Linked DNA regions of Homo sapiens. The protein of the gene in region 1 interacts with the protein of each later gene in a pairwise test. Each region holds a gene or a part of one and is shown on either strand. Other genes may lie near its edges.

Region 1 (7,974 bases):
TTGCTATTTTCAAAACATTTTTATTCTCATGGTCCCCCCTACAAGGCAAAAATCATGACGCCCGTTTTACAGGAGAGGACAGAGAGGTGAAATGGCATGCCCAAGGTCCCCCAGCTGTCAACAAAGACACCTCAACAGGAGGCCAGGGCTCTGAGAGCCTGGTGCCCGTCTGCTCATACCTGCCTTCCCTCTGCCAGTGAGCCCCAGTCCATTATCTTGCTCCAGCGTCATCCCCAAGGTCAACTCCTTACTCCCAGCTGGGTTCCTCAAGGGCACCTCAAACTCAACATGTTGAAACTGAGCTTCTCTCCTCCTCCCCTCCTGGTGGCTCTAATATACAAAGTCGCTACGTCTTGGAACTCTCAGAGATGCCTTTGACAAATTTTTGCCATCCCTTCTCTAGCCACTCAGTTCCCCATCCTGCCAACCCCCTTCTCCCTCCTCAGTGGGCTTCTGCCCCACCAGCTGCTACCTGGACTGCTGCAGGGGGTCTTTGAAACACTCTCTCCCTGTTCCCACCCAGCATGCACAGTGGCTTCACCCTCTGCCTGAGACAATGATTGTCCTGATCCCTCTAACCCAAAGCCCCACACTGATTTCCCATCAGGATGAGGCCTGAAGGCCTCAGCCAGGCTCTTCCGGTCTCTTCCAGGGGTTCCCAGGCTCTGTCCCCAACCTCACTCCAACACTGGCTCCAACCCACGTCTCCACATCACCCATGGGTGTCCCACAGTCTCCCCCAGCATGGCGTTCCCCACTATCGCCTCAGGACCTTTGTTCACATTGGTCTCTCCATTCGAAATCCATCCCTACTTGTCTCAGCTTACCCAACTGGTCCCTTCCTTCATGGCATGGTCCAAGTGCCAACACCTGACCCCTGGGGCCTGATCTACTTCTTCCTGCTACTGGAATTCCTCTAACAGCCAGCAGGAAGTGATGTAGGTGACCATCAGGACTAAGGAAAAGGACCCACCAAGAAAGAAGCCCAGCACTGCAGAAACACCCCCCAACCCCACCCCCATGGTTCCCAGGCCCGCTCTTCCTACCTCGGAGCCAGCAAGCACCCAGCTATTATCAGAGTCTGGGCAGGAGGCCATAGTTGCTGAGGTCCCTGAGGCTGCTGTGGCTGCCACCTGCAGAAGAAAGCTCTCTTAAGGATGGGAGCTCCCTTCAGGAGGGGCAGAATGCAGAAAGCAGCCTTGGCTGGGTTCCAAGGTTCAAGTGCTGGGCAGCAGCCTCCAGAACCAAGCCTGGTTCCAGTCCTTCTCTCCCTGACACCCCAGCTCTTCTAAGCAGTATTTGCCTTGCAAATCAGAATCTGCCAACACCCACAGAGAAGCCAGCCTCTTCCAGGGACCAACAGGGCCTTGGAAAACTGAACTGACCTTGAAAGGTCAAAGTAGCATAGGCTGGAAAGGCTCTGGGGAATTCCAGTCCAGCCCCCTGACATTTGAGTCAGGGAAGATGAAGCCCAGCAAGGTTGACAGACTCAACTTGCCAATAAGAAGACTTGTTAATAAGAAGAGCAGGGAAACAACACAGCCCTCCCTTCACAACACCAGGTACCTACACAATCACTACCTTCTCCCCCAGGACCTGGAAGGGAAGACTCAATGGCCTCCTTCAGCCCTAAGTGTCCCACCACTTGCCCAGCATAAGTCCTTGGTATGGTCTAGTTCAGTGGTTCTCAATCTTGGCTGCACATTGGAATCACCTAAGATTTTGATTCAATTGAGTTGGGGGGTAGGCCCGGCTGTGGGTCTTTTAAAAAACCACTCAAATGATTCTCATGCGCAGCCAGGGTTAAGAGCCACTGGCATAGCTTAGATCCACCTGGATGCACCTTTTATAAGTCTCCTCATCACTCTCAGTCTTCATCCTAAATTCTGTTTACCTTCTTAGTAATCGCCAGAGTTTGGTCTTAGGGAACTTGAAGGTGACTGGGAAAATGGATTTATGGCAACTATCATGTATATATACATCACTTTATAGCTTGCAAAAAATAGACAAAAATCAGGGCTATGGTCCTGCACCCGGTTAATCTGCTCTGACTTGACAGGGATAGGGGAGGGAATCACTCCAGTTTCCAAAGCCTGACTGACACAAAGCAGGGTAAGAAGAGAGGGATCCGCCCCTTCATCCAAGGCTAAAACAGTTCCCTCAGGCAGCTCCTGTTGGGACCAGGCATAAAGGTGGAAGGATAGATGAGCTGACCTCTCAAGAGTACTGGATTGTGATCCCTCAGAACAGGATAAATGACTGCTTCCCGAGCACTTTATAAGAAAACTCAGGAAAAGGGAAGTGAGGCTGGGAGAGTATGGCAGTTCTACCTTTGAAACCAACCACATTATCCCCTTCTGTTTGAGCTGTTTTCAAGTCCTGCGTGGTGCCCTAAGTAACCTCCTGTGGCTCCTGCCAGTCAAGATCCAAGTCCTGGATAGGTCTTTCCCAATGCCCATCCTCCCAGACACATGCACCCATTCCACACGGAGACAGGAGAATGGCTGCAATGACCTCCCTGTACCAAATCCAACAGGACACCCTGGCATGCATCTGTAAGTATCCATAGAGCCATGGCTGTTCAGCCTTCCGCTTGTGGCTCCACCCCCGCCCTTGTTATCATCTCCCCATCCCCAGTTGCTGACTGTTAACAGGTGGTGGCAGGAAGGAAGTGGCAGCAGCTTGGGCTGAAGTCCCTGTTTATCCCTAGCTGTGTGTGCAGCCTGCTCAGGTCCTCTAGAACCAGGCACCATGGCAACCACAGTGATGTCAGACCCACTGTCTCCATGGAAACCAGCAAAGGTATTTGGGTCAACAAAACAAATACTTATGAGACCCAAATAGGAGACACTCTGAAACTCCTATACTCTGGGTTCCAAACCCTGATACCTCTTTCTTGGTTAGGTTAACCCAGGGTTCAAAAAAACACCTCTTCTCCCAAGCCAGCATCTCACTGCCTTATTAGGAAGTTCCTTCTGCTGTCTAATCTCCACCCTTCCCTGCTGTGTTTCCAGATCTTTTTCTTTTCATCGACCTTCTGGAAGAAAACCCACCTCCACTCCCTCCCTCCACCCCCTTCTTTTCATTCAGGCAGGATTCAACAAACACCTCCTGTAAGGATTATGACAGAGACTTCTGCTATTTCTAAAAAACAGCTAAAGGGGGAGCTCTCCCACTCAGCATAAAGCTAGGAAGTCTCGCCTCTAGTTAATTTAAACTCCTCTAACAGTTGCTCCTCCAAACCGCTAAAGCAAAGGATCTAGGGCCACTTGCCTGGGGTACCCAGAGCAAGTTCCTGTTGTGTTAGCGTCGGCACCTGGCCTTCCTCCCCCAGCCCAGAAATGAAAAGCAGCTCATTCCTTCTAGATTAGTTCCGCCTTCCCTTTTCCTTATTCCACCCCCTTCAAAGCGAATCTGTGGACCCCTTCCCAGCTAAGGCATTACCTGAACCAGCTCTTGCTTCGGTCTTCAGCTTAACTTGTTGCAGGCTTCCCTTTGTTTGCAGCCCGAGAAGAAAATCATGTGACCAGAAACTGACCAATGAAAAGTCAACTTCCCCAAGGGGGCGGAAACTTTTGGCCAATAAGAGCAGGAATTGAGAGCCAGGGGAGGGGAAGGGAGGTCTAGCGACACGGCCCTAAACCTGGGCTTACCTCCTGGTGGGCGACCGGGGTCCCAGCTAACCGAATCCTGAGTTTCCTGCCCTTCTTTCCCAGTGTCTAAACAGTTTCTAGAGGGAACCCCCACAAACTGAGAGAAAAGCAGACGGTGCCGTCTTCTGAGATGACGAAGACAAGGGGCCAGGTTGGCCCCAGGATAGACAGAGACAGCTGTGAGATGGGGGAAGGGAGAGGGACAGGTCGCAAATCCAGGGTGTGGAAATAGCCCTCCTGCCATTCTCCCCAATCTGCTCCAAAACAGACTGCTTAAAAGATGCCATTGCTACTTTAAAAAACGGTTGGGGGACGGGAACGATCTGAAAAACATCCCAAAATGAAATTTGCTAGGACAGAAGCAGCCCCTCCCCTCACCCTTAGAGCGACACTTGCTCCCTAACCCAAACAACTGGGAGGTGGGTGGGGTGCTAAACCCAGAAGAGCTCAAGCACTTGTCTTCCAGAGGCTGTGGTGCCAAATCCGCCTGGCTCCAGGCCTGGCCCAGGAATATGCTCAAAAAGGAAACTCAGTTTCTCACAGTGGAGACACAGGGGGATGGGCGGGGAAACACAGGCCTCCCTTGGCTCAGCAGCTTATACCAGGGTCAGCTCAGGGGCCAAATCTGCCATTCCCACTCCCAGGGACCCTGGGGAGCATACATATCCTCAACCCCTAAGCACCCTACCCAGCAGTGACAGCGGCTCATTCCAGCCTTTTCACACAGCAACAGCAAGGAGTCCTTGTCTGGGATTTTAAAATCATTTTATTAATCCAACAGTACAAAAGACCCCCACCACCACCGCATTCTGCCATCACTTTGTTCCAAAAAGTAGTGGAGTGAGAGAGCGAGAGGGAGCAGATCCAGCAAAAACACTCCCCCAGGGGCCATTTTACAAAATGCGGAGCAGGGGAAGACAACACAAAAACAGCAACAGATAAATGGGGCAAACAGAACAACAAACACAAGAGTTGAGCAGCGGGGTGGGGGTGGGGGGTTGCCATCTACGCCGTTTTAGTGTGAGGGACACTGGGAACGATGCCCAGAGGCTGCTCTCCTCCCAGCCTCAAAGGTTGTCAGCTCCACCAGAGCAGGGTCTTCTCTCCTCATGCCAGGAACTGAGAGAAGTGGGGGTAGGGGACCACTAGGTCTTTGCCACTGTATCTTGAGCTGGGGGACTCCTAACTTCTCCGAGGGCCACACCCCATGCCTGCCTTCCCCACCCCATGGAGGAATGTGTGCATGAACAGAAAAGGAGAACGAGCAGCGCTAAGGTCCTCATCAGGCCCCAGGCCCATCTCTGGCAGGCAGTGCTTAAAAAATAAAAAAAGACAAATAAAGCCCAGTGCAGGCCTTTGGCTGAGAGGAATGAGAATTGCTAATTAATCACCAGGCCCAAGAGGATATGAAAGAATAGCAAAGAGAAGCAACAAACTCCAGGCTCTTCTACCTTTGAGTACCATGGCAATGAGGATCCCGCCGCATCCCCTACCCACAGGCTGTGACAGGGCCTCACTTGGATCCTTTTATCATGGAGGAAATGAGGTATAGGGCTCTGCGCCTTTTCAAGCTTTCCTTCAATCAAGCCAGGAAGGCAGGGGAATAAGGGCGCCGAAAGTTGAAGAACACACGGAGTATAATGTGCAACAGATGGGCTGGGGGAGGAGGGTACCACCAAAGTCCAGACTTTCAGGACAGCCCAAACTTCAAATATTCTGGTCTGTCAGATAACATATCCCAATTTTTGGCAAAAATATGGTCATTAGGAGAAAAGCACGAGAGAGGCTGAGAAAGGACCAGTGACTTTGGTATGAAGAAGATACGTCCTGACAGCATCTCTCACCTACTGTCTTGAAGCCCCAAATCACCAAGAAACTGCCATAACCAGGAACTCTCCTGCTTCCTCAGGCTATTTGGTTCTCTGAGGGGGAAGGAGTTGGGTAAGTCTTGGAGGAAGCAAAGGAGTGGGTAGAAAAAGGGGAAAATCCCCATTTATTCCCTAAAGCTGTCTCCCAGAGCCCATAAAAGGGCTATTGCAGGGATGGCAAGACCCCAATTCCTCTGGCCAGAAACCTTTAACACTTGACTCCAAAAACTAAGGCTGGAGCTGTGGGGTTCAGTAGGGGTGTTAGGCACAGGTGTTAGGGGCATCCATCATCAGCAGAGGGAACACCCCTGCCCTCCGGATCTTCCTCCAGCCCCTTTTCTCTTGCAGCCACACTCCTGGGCCTCCAGAAATAGCCACAAAATGGCTCTGCTCAGCAGGGCTTTGGTTTCCTGGATCTCTGTAGATCTCAACATGTAAGTTTCCCAAAACAGTGAGCAATCCAGGCTCTTCTGCCTGCCCACCTCAATTCCTTTTCTGCTCCCAGGAGCCACTGTTTCTGCCCCATGGGGATGGAAAGCCAGTGGAAACAAGGACCAAGAGCCAAACATCAAAAAAATCACCCTGGAAGAGCAGGGAGAGACATGTGCACTTCCCTGGGCCACTTCACCAGCGTCACCCATCGTTAGCAGCCACCAGCTGCCCCATGCCCTCACGGATGTAGACAGACTGGATCTCCTTGGTCTTGAGGCAGAGATCGCAGGCCCAGACGGCAGAAGCTTCAGTGGTCAGCAGCCCATAGGCGCTCTCAGTCATGCCTGTGCACTCACGGTGGAACCATTTCTGGCAGGAGGCCTCACACAGAATGGCATCCTGGTCATCGTTCACCTCACTCCGACAGGCACCACATGGGTACACCAAGCCTGGGGGAGGCTGGGGCCCGGAGCCCCCACCTGCCTTGCCAGGGGGTGCCAAGCTGTTGGCATCTGGAGTGCCCCCACCCCGCCCACTGCTGTTCGGGGGGAAACTGGGCTGGTTCCCATTAACAGCAGCAGCCGGGGAGCCTGAGTGGGGCTCCTGGGGAAAAGCAGTAGAAGCAGGTGGATTCAAGGGCTTCCCCCCATCCTCACCACCAGGGCCAGGAAAGCCAGGGTCCGGACCAGGAAAGGGACTTGTGTTAGGCGGCAGGCTGGGGAGCCCCTGACCAGGTCTCTGGAGAGGAGAAGGGCCAAAAGGAGCCCCTGGCTGAGCAAATCGTTGGGACAGAGAAGGTGGGCCCAGCTCTGCTCTGGGAGGCTGTCCCATGGTGGGTGAGATCATGGGACCAAATCCCCCCACTGGGCCCGGCATCATCTGCCCACTGGGAGGACTAAAGTTTTGACCCAGAGGCTGGTTGAAGGGTTGGCTGGGAAAGTTCATGTTGCCTGGGGGTGGGTAGCCAGGACCCTGGGGGGGCATGTTGAAAGCAGGGCCCATAGGATTGGGAGGGAAGGGGGGTGGCTGTCGACGGAGTGGCTGGGGGCCCCCTCCACCTCCAGTGCTGTAGCCTGGGGGTACCTGGCCCGCCATGCCCCCCTGCACACGGAAGCCTCCGAAGGGCACAGGACTGCCAAGGAATGGAGGGGCTGCAACCCCCACTTTGGGGGCTCCGAAGTCATCTTCAAAAGGGTTGGATGCAACCAGGTGATCCACCATGGGAGTTGGGGGTGGTGCAAACTCCGTCAGATGTGAGTATGCAGGGCCCTAGTGAGAAACAGTTGAGGGAAAGAGGGTCATGGAGGGAAACACAGAGCTAAACCAAGAGAGCACTACCAACACAATACACATTTTGGAGGCTGATACTGTGGGCAGCTCAGGTCTAAAATCAATATGGACCACAGGCCAGGTGCGGTGGCTCACGCCTGTAATCCCAGCACTTTGGGAGGCCAAGGCGGGCAGATCACGAGGTCAGGAGATCGAGATCATCCTGGCTAACACGGTGAAACCCCGTCTCTACTAAAAATACAAAAAAATTAGCCGGGCGTGGTGGTGGGCGCCTGTAGTCCCAGCTACTCGGGAGGCTGAAGCAGGAGAATGGCGTGAACCCAGGAGGCGGAGCTTGCAGTGAGCCAAGACCATACCACTGCACTCCAGCCTGGGCAACAGAGCAAGACTCCGTCTCAAAAAAAAAAAAAAAAAAATGGACCACAGGCCAGGCACAGTGGGTCACACCTGTAATGCTAACATTTTGGGAAGCCGAGGCAGGAGGATCCCTTGAGCCCATGAGTTTGAGTAGTAACACAGCAAGTCTCTGTTACTACAAAAAAAAAAAAAGAAAAGAAAAGAAAAGAAAAAAGAAAAAAAAAAAGACAAGAAAAAGAGGGTGGAGAGTGGAACCAACATAGTGCAGTAACTATGTTTTAAAAACAGGCAGAACTAGGATGGAATCCCAGCTCTGACCCTGAAAAACAACCTCAAGACTGTGGAGCATGTATTTAACATTTTTAACCCCCAGA
Region 2 (7,475 bases), on another chromosome or scaffold:
CCACTTTATTATACTTTTACTGCTCTTTGGAACCTATAACGGGGCTTGAGGGAGGAAGGGAGGAAATGGCAGGAGAGATGGACAGACCTGAGCCAATAATTCATTCTAAGAGCAGTTTTTATTTAGAAATGTGCTTCCACAACTTGGTGGCCACCTGGGGGCAGGTAGCCCCGGCTTGCTTGTTCTCTCTTTCCTAGCCCAAGAATCGGGTCCTTGGGTCTAAAGCACAGGGCCAAGTTCTCAAGGATCAACATCCCAGACAGCTCCCATGGTCTGGGGCTTGGAGCTGGTATGAAGGGTGAACCAGGTTCCATCCTGGACTGTTTATGGTTGGAGGGCCTGGGCCCCTGGCACCAGGACCTCAGCTCCCTCTCCTAGTAAGAGCTGGGATCACCCACAGGCCAGCTGTGGCCAGGTCCTGGTGGATATGACATTGGGAAGAACAAGGGGCTAAGAGAGGCTAATTTTCTGGTGCTGGATCCAGTTTATCTTCCTGAGGGGTGGAAGCCGGGGCAGGAGCCTCATCCCCACCATTGAGGGACTTCTGCTGCTCATTGCTGTTGGGCGAGGGGGTCCTGTTGCCCTGGGATCCCCAGCGGGTCAGGCGCTTTAGGGAGGAGTCACGGTGGGCAAGCAGAGGGGGCTGGAAGCCTGAGAAGGAGCTGCTGGTGACCGGACGCTTATCTGGCAGAGAGAAGGCAGGCAAGTAAGGAGAAAGGCATGCAAAGGTGAGAGGCGAGGGGCCTTGCCTCAGCCCTCAGAGGAGAGGGGAGCCTCCTGACTGCCAGTCCTGCTTTTGCTGGCCCTGGGAGATCTGGAGGTCTCCCAGGGAGACCTTTCTCCCTCCTTTCTCCCTCCCAGCTCCAGGGAAAGCTCCAGAGTCTATTCCTTCTCACCTCCAGGCTCAATTGGATGCATCAGCCGGTTCATCTGGACATTCCAGTGTTTCACGTTGGTGCTGGCCTGGCGCAGTTTTCTCTGGGCAGCCTGTGGGGACAGGGCCAGTGGGGAGTGATCAGAACCATCATCCATGGCATGGAGTCTTGATCTTTTCAGGTTCGCAGGCTGCTTAAAATCTGACCAAGACTACTGATCATCTCCCCAGAGAAAAACCATATATGCTCATAGAGTTATTAATACATACATGAATAGAGTTTGCCTCCAATTTCATGGGACTCATGGACTTCCAAAAGATAAAATGTAACCATAATAATAGTTTCCGTTTATTGAGCAGCTAAGATGTGCTAAGCATATTTATTATCTTATTTAACTTCCAGAGCAGAAGTTAACAACAAAAAAGTTCAAAAGAGGTTAAGTGACTTGCCCAGGGATACACTTGAGCTCTAAGCCACTGCACTACACCACCTTTCCAGCACCTAATCCAAGAACCTCTGTTCAACATTTCACGGAGCCATTAGCAGTGGTTGTGAGGTGGGGGGGATCATGGAGGAATTTTCCCTTTCTATGTTCCATATTTCTGTGTTTGAATTTATGGAGATTAAAGCTCCAAGGAGTAGAGCCAAAGTACAAGGATAGCAAGACAGGGGCTTGGAAGGGTAGAAGGAAAAATTTTTCCCCAGATTAATAATGATGTGAACAAAGATAGCAGCAAATGTTTCTTCAGCACTTACTACGTACTAAGTATCATGTATCATCTCATTTAATCTTCATAACAACGCTATTACCAGTTTCCCAGGTGAGAGACTAACTCCAAGAAGTTTGGGCATTTGTCCAAAGTCACACAGCCAGCAGCTGCTAGGGCCAGGGTTTGAGGGAAGGCAGCCTGGCTCCAGAGCCTGTGCCCTAATGAGCTCACCCTGCCAGCCTCCACCCCATCCCACCCCAGGCCTCACCTCCACATCCTCGTCAGCCCTCTGCCGGTTCTGCCGCACCTCCTCCAGCTGCTGCTGGGCCTGCTGCAGGGAGCGGCTCTGCTGTGCCATCTCCTGCTGCAGCTCTTCCTTCTCCTGCTGCGCCCGTTCGATGTAGCGCTCCTGCTCCTCCTTCAGCTGCATCAACTGCTTCAGCTTCTCTTCCTCCTCTTCCAGCAGTCTGCCGGGTGAGTGTGTACTGTGTAGCCTCTAGTGCCAAGGCACCTTGCAGGTGCACAGCAAGCAGGAAAACTGGGGTGTGTTCCAGGAGGGGTGGTGAGAGAACCAGAAGAGGTTCCTCAGGCCTACCTGGTCTGAGCGATTCGCACAGATTCTTCATCTCGCCGAGCTTTCACCTCTAGTTGCAGGGCCTCCTGCAACCGCTGCTGCATCTCCTCCAGCTCCTTGATGCGCTGCCGCTGCCGGGCAGCCTCCTCCTCCTTCAGCTCCATCTCAGCCTGCATGGAGGCCCGGGCCTGTGGAGGGGGGAGGTGGTGGACCAAGAGCCAGGTCAAAAGGGGCACGTGGGGGCGGAGGAGGAGGGGGTGGGCATGTTGCTAAGCTGCCTAGGGGTGAGGGTCTGGGGAACTCCTTCATGTTGGGGTTTCCTGATCTGACCCCTTTCTGAGAGCCTGACTGGAACAGATAATGGTCGGTGAACAGATGCCACGTGGGGGAAACGGGCTCAAGTTATTTCCTTCCTAGTACCAACCTTAATCATAATTATATAACATGTAATTAAACAACATTATATAATTAAATAAGATATAAAAATATGGTCATCTCCTTCCTAGCACTAACTTAATAATTATTATAATATATAATAATATGTTATAATCATGGCTGATGCTAGGAAGGATGTGACTATAACTACAATTATTACAACAAAAAGTTACTGGACACTACAAGTGTTTCCTCATTTAATCCTCACCGTACCTCTGTGAGCAAAGTTCTATTAGCATTAGCATTTTACTGATAAGGCTCAGTAAAATGAACTTGCCTGGGATCACGGGGCTCGTAAGAAGCAGAGCTAGGATTGAATCTACGTGTTTCTGACTCCAGATCCAGGTTTCTTAAATCCTAAATCTAATTGCCTCTGCACACCTAGTCCGCCTCCATACGCGTCCCGCTTGCCTCTCAAACTGGTTTCACTGTAAACTTAGTTCAAGTCTAGTCCAAACTTGGTCCAGTCTAATCCCCAATCACACGGTCTTCAACGGCTCCTTCTGCCCAAGCCCCAACCCACAGCCAAGGTCTCCGAACCAGGCCCCATCCATCCACGGGCTCGGACCTCGCCCCACACCCCTTTCCTAGCCCCAGGTTCTGTCCCTGGCGGAAGCCCCATCCCAAATCTCTTTTTCAAACCCGCGGACTCTGTCCCAACAATCCCTCATTTCAAGCTCCACCCCAGTGCACGCCCCTCAACCCAGGAGCTCCGCCCTCTGCCCAGGCCCCGCCCCCGGCGCTCCGCCCCTGGCCAGCCTCCCAGCCCACCGGTCCCGTCCCCGGCGCCGGGAGCTAACCCCACCTGCTCCGCCTCGCGCAGTTGGCCCTCGAGCGCCTGCTGCAGCTCGCGGTGCTGGCTGCGGCGCCGTTCCTCCTCCTCCTGCAGCAGCCGCTCGGCCTGCCGCTGCGCCTCCTGCAGCAGCTCCAGCTCCTGCAGCTTCCGCTCCTTCTCCTCCTGCAGCTGCTGCAGCCGCAGCAGCTCCTCTTCCTTGGCCGCCCGGCGCCGCTCCCGCTGCTCCCGCTGCTCGCGCCGTTTCTGCTTCAGGTCCTTGTGTAGGGACGTCTTCCCCTCGGCCTGCAGCCGGATCGCCATCTGGATGGCTGCCGAAGAGCGGGAGCGGGTCAGTAGGATCCTCGCACACGGCCCGAAAGGGGCCTTAGGAGTTTCCCGAGTCCACTCTCCAACCTCCCGCTGGACAAAGTATTATCACCCCCTTTTCACAGATGAGGCGCCTAAGGACCACCCAGACCCAAGCCACCTAGCGAGCACTCACCAGCTGTCCACTCCTGGCGCTGGCGCGTGTCTGAGGCGCTCATCTCATACGTGCGGTTGGCTGTCTTCACACAGAACATGCAGCGCTTTCCGTCGCGGTCTGGCAGCACCTGGCACAGGGTAGGTGGCCGCAGCCAGGCTGGCCTCACTGGGTCAGGGCCCCACCTGCCCCAAGGGTGCTCCAGCTCAAGCCCCTAGCCCTCCTGGCTATCTTCCCTGGGGACCCCACTCTGCCAGGAGCCTGCATGGCTTGCATCATAAGTTATGGGGGACTTAAGTCCCCACAACTCTGTAGCCTTTGCTCTTTGAAGGCTAGGTGGGTGCGTTTCCATCTTGCTATTATTCCACGGGGCCCAGTACATAATCGCCACTCAGTGTTTATGCAGATCACGCTTGAACACTGCCAGTAACAGGGTCCTCACTATCCATGACAACTCACTTCCACATAGCCCTGCTTGTTAAGAGTTCATTCATTCATTCCGCAGATGTTTTTGGAGTGCCTACTGAGTGCCACTCACTGCTCCAGGGGTTGGGATACTAAGGTGTGCCTAACAGACCAAATCTCTGCCTCCATTAAGTTTACATTCTGTGGAAAATAATAGCTACCACATTCTAGAGTCTGTACTAGTATTTTATATGCATCATTATCTTCACTCCACCTATACAGCTTTGCCAGGCAGGCATTATTAGCTCCACTTTACAGAGAAAGAAACTGAGGCACTAAGAGCTCCAGGATTGTCCACCTCACACTGTTAGTCTGTTAGTGATGAGGCTTGGACTTCTGCGTAGATCCGTGCTCCTTTCCACAGTAACACCTTATGTGACAAAATTAGACAGATCCTAGGATGGCTATGATAATTTTTTAAAAGGAAAAACAACTGTTGGTAAGGAAATGGAGAAACTGAGATCCTCACACACTGTTAGGGATATTATCCAGCCTTAAAAAGGAATGAAATTCTGATATATTTGACAACATAGATGAAGCCTGAAAACATTTCTAAGTAAAAGAAACCAGACACAAAGGGACAAATATTTTATGATTCTATTTATGTAAGATACCTAGAAAAGGCAAATTCATGGAGACAGAAAGCAGAATAGAGGATACTAGGAGCTGGGGTCAGGGAGTATGAGGAGTTATTGCTTGGTAGGTACAGAGTTTCTGTTTGGTGTGATGAAAAAGTTTTGGAAATAGATAGTGGTGATGGTTGTACAATATTGTGAGTATAGATCTTTCACCATGATCAGATGGGATTCATCCCAGGGATGCAAGGATGGTTCAACATGCACAAATCAATATGCATGACACATCATAGTAACAGAACCAAGAGCAAAAACCATATATGATCATTTCAATAGACCCTGAAAAAGCTTTCTAAAAAAATTCAACATCGTGTTATAAAAGCCCTAAAATATTGGGTATAGAGGCAACATACCTTAAAATAATAAACGCTATCTATGACAAACTCACAGCTAACATTGTAATAAATGGAGAAAAATTGAAAGCCTTTCCTCTAAGATCTGGAACAAGACAAGGATGCCCACTTTTACCACTTTTATTCCATGTAGTATTGGGAGTTCTGGCCAGAGCAATTAGGCAAGAGAAGGAAATGAAGGGCATCCAAACTGGAAATGAAGAAGTCAGATTAGCCTTGTTTGCAGATGGCATGGTCTTCTACTTAGAAAAATCTAAAGACTCCATGGGGCGTGGTGGCTTACACTTGTAATCCTAACACTTTGGGAAGCTGAGGTGGTTGGATTGCTTGAGGCCAGGAGTTCGACACCAGCCTGGGCAATACAGTGAGATCCTGTCTCTCTCTTAAAAAAAAAAAAAAGGCCGGGCACAGTGGCTTATACCTGTAATCCCAGCACTTTGGGAGGCCGAGGTGGGCAGATCATCTGAGGTCAGGAGTTTGAGACCAGCCTGGCCAACACGGTGAAATGCTGTCTCTACTAAAAATACAAAAAAAAAAAAAATTAGCCAGGTGTGGTGGCAGGTGCCTGTAATCCCAGCTAACTTGGGAGGCTGAGGCAGGAGAATCACTTGAACTCGGGAGGCGGAGGTTGCAGTGAGCTGAGATCGTGCCATTGCACTCCAGCCTGGGCGATAAAAGCAAGACTCCTCCTCCTCCTCAAAAAAAAAAAAAAAAAAAAAAGGGACTCCAACAAAAAACCGTTAGAGTTGATGAATGAATTCAGTAAAGTTGCAGGATAATTCAACATACAAAACCCAGTAGCATTTGTATACGCTAACAGCAAACAATCTGAAAAAGAAGTTGAGTGCAATCCCATTTCCAACAGCTACAAAGAATGTAAAATACCTAAGAATCGATGTAACCAAAGTGAAAGATCTATACAAGAAAAACTATAAAACTGATGAAATAAATTGAAGAGGATGCAAAAAAATGGAGAGATATCCCATGCTATGTATTGGAAAAATTAATATTGTTAAAATAACAATATTACCCAAAGCAATTTATAGATTTGGTGCAATCTCTGTCAAAATAGCAAAGGCATTCTTCATAGATATAGAAAAAAAATCCTAAAATTTATACGGAACTACAAAAGACCTCAAATAGCCAAAGTAAGCCTGAGTAAAAAGAACGAAGCTGGAGGCATCACATTTCCTGACTTCAAAATACACTACGAACTGGCCACGGTGGTACACACCTATAGCCCCAGCTATTCAGGAGGCTGAAGCAGGAGGATCCCATGAGCCCAAGGAGACTGAGGCTGCAGTGACCTATGATCATACCACTGCACTCCAGCCTGGACACCAGAGAAAAATCCTGTCTCTAAAATAAAACAAAAAAACAAAATGTAGTACAAAGCTATAGTAACCAAATCAGCATAGTACTGGCATAAAAAGAGACACAAAGACCAATGGAACAGAATAGATAACCTAGATATAAATCCATGCATTTACAGAGAACTCATTTTTGACAAAGGCTCCAGGAACACACAATGGGGAAAGAACAGTCCTTTCAATAAATGGTTCTGGGAAAACTAAATAACCACATGCAGATGAATGAAACTAGACCCCTATCTCTCACCATATAAAAAAATCAAATAAAAATGGATTAAACATTTAAATGTAAGACCTGAAACTATGAAACTACTAGAAGAAAACATTGGAGAAATATTCCAGGACATTGGTCTGGGCAAAGAGATTTTTTGTGGAAGACCTCAAAAGCATAGGCAACCAAACCAAAAATAGAAAAATGGGATTATGTCAAGCTAAAAAGCTTCAGGACAGCCATGGAAACAATCAACAAAGTGAAGAGACAACCCACAGAATAGGAGAAAATATTTGCAAAGTATCAATCTGACGAGGGATTAATAACCAGAATATATAAGGAGCTCAAACAACTCTGTAACAAAAAACCAAATAATCCAGTTTAAAAATGGGCAAAAGATCTGAATAGATATTTCTCAAAAGAAGACATACAAATGGTCAACAGAGATATGAAAAAATGCTCAATGTCACTAATCATCAGAGAAAAGCAAATCAAAATTAAATGAGATATCATTTCATCCCAGTTAAAATGGCTTTTTACAAAAAAAATAGAGAACATCTTTTTTTTTTTTTTTTTTTTGAGATAGAGTTT

Evidence for each region. The genes of interacting proteins can lie anywhere in the genome.
Region 2: the proteins of PBXIP1 (region 1) and DEF6 interact in binary tests that used the Homo sapiens proteins (3 or more experiments, as listed by UniProt).

The regions. Positions count from the first base shown.
Region 1 is NC_000001.11:154,952,625-154,960,598, forward strand, and holds the start of PBXIP1 (pre-B-cell leukemia transcription factor-interacting protein 1), read right to left. Parts: upstream 3,476-7,974; 5' UTR 3,445-3,475; intron 1,134-3,444; 5' UTR 1,098-1,133; coding exon 1,047-1,097; intron 1-1,046. Other genes in the region: PYGO2 (pygopus homolog 2), read right to left, coding at 6,155-7,222. UniProt on the Homo sapiens protein: Regulator of pre-B-cell leukemia transcription factors (BPXs) function. Inhibits the binding of PBX1-HOX complex to DNA and blocks the transcriptional activity of E2A-PBX1.
Region 2 is NC_000006.12:35,314,396-35,321,870, reverse strand, and holds the end of DEF6 (differentially expressed in FDCP 6 homolog), read right to left. Parts: intron 3,981-7,475; coding exon 3,872-3,980; intron 3,699-3,871; coding exon 3,400-3,698; intron 2,348-3,399; coding exon 2,181-2,347; intron 2,053-2,180; coding exon 1,854-2,052; intron 988-1,853; coding exon 897-987; intron 685-896; coding exon 461-684; 3' UTR 100-460; downstream 1-99.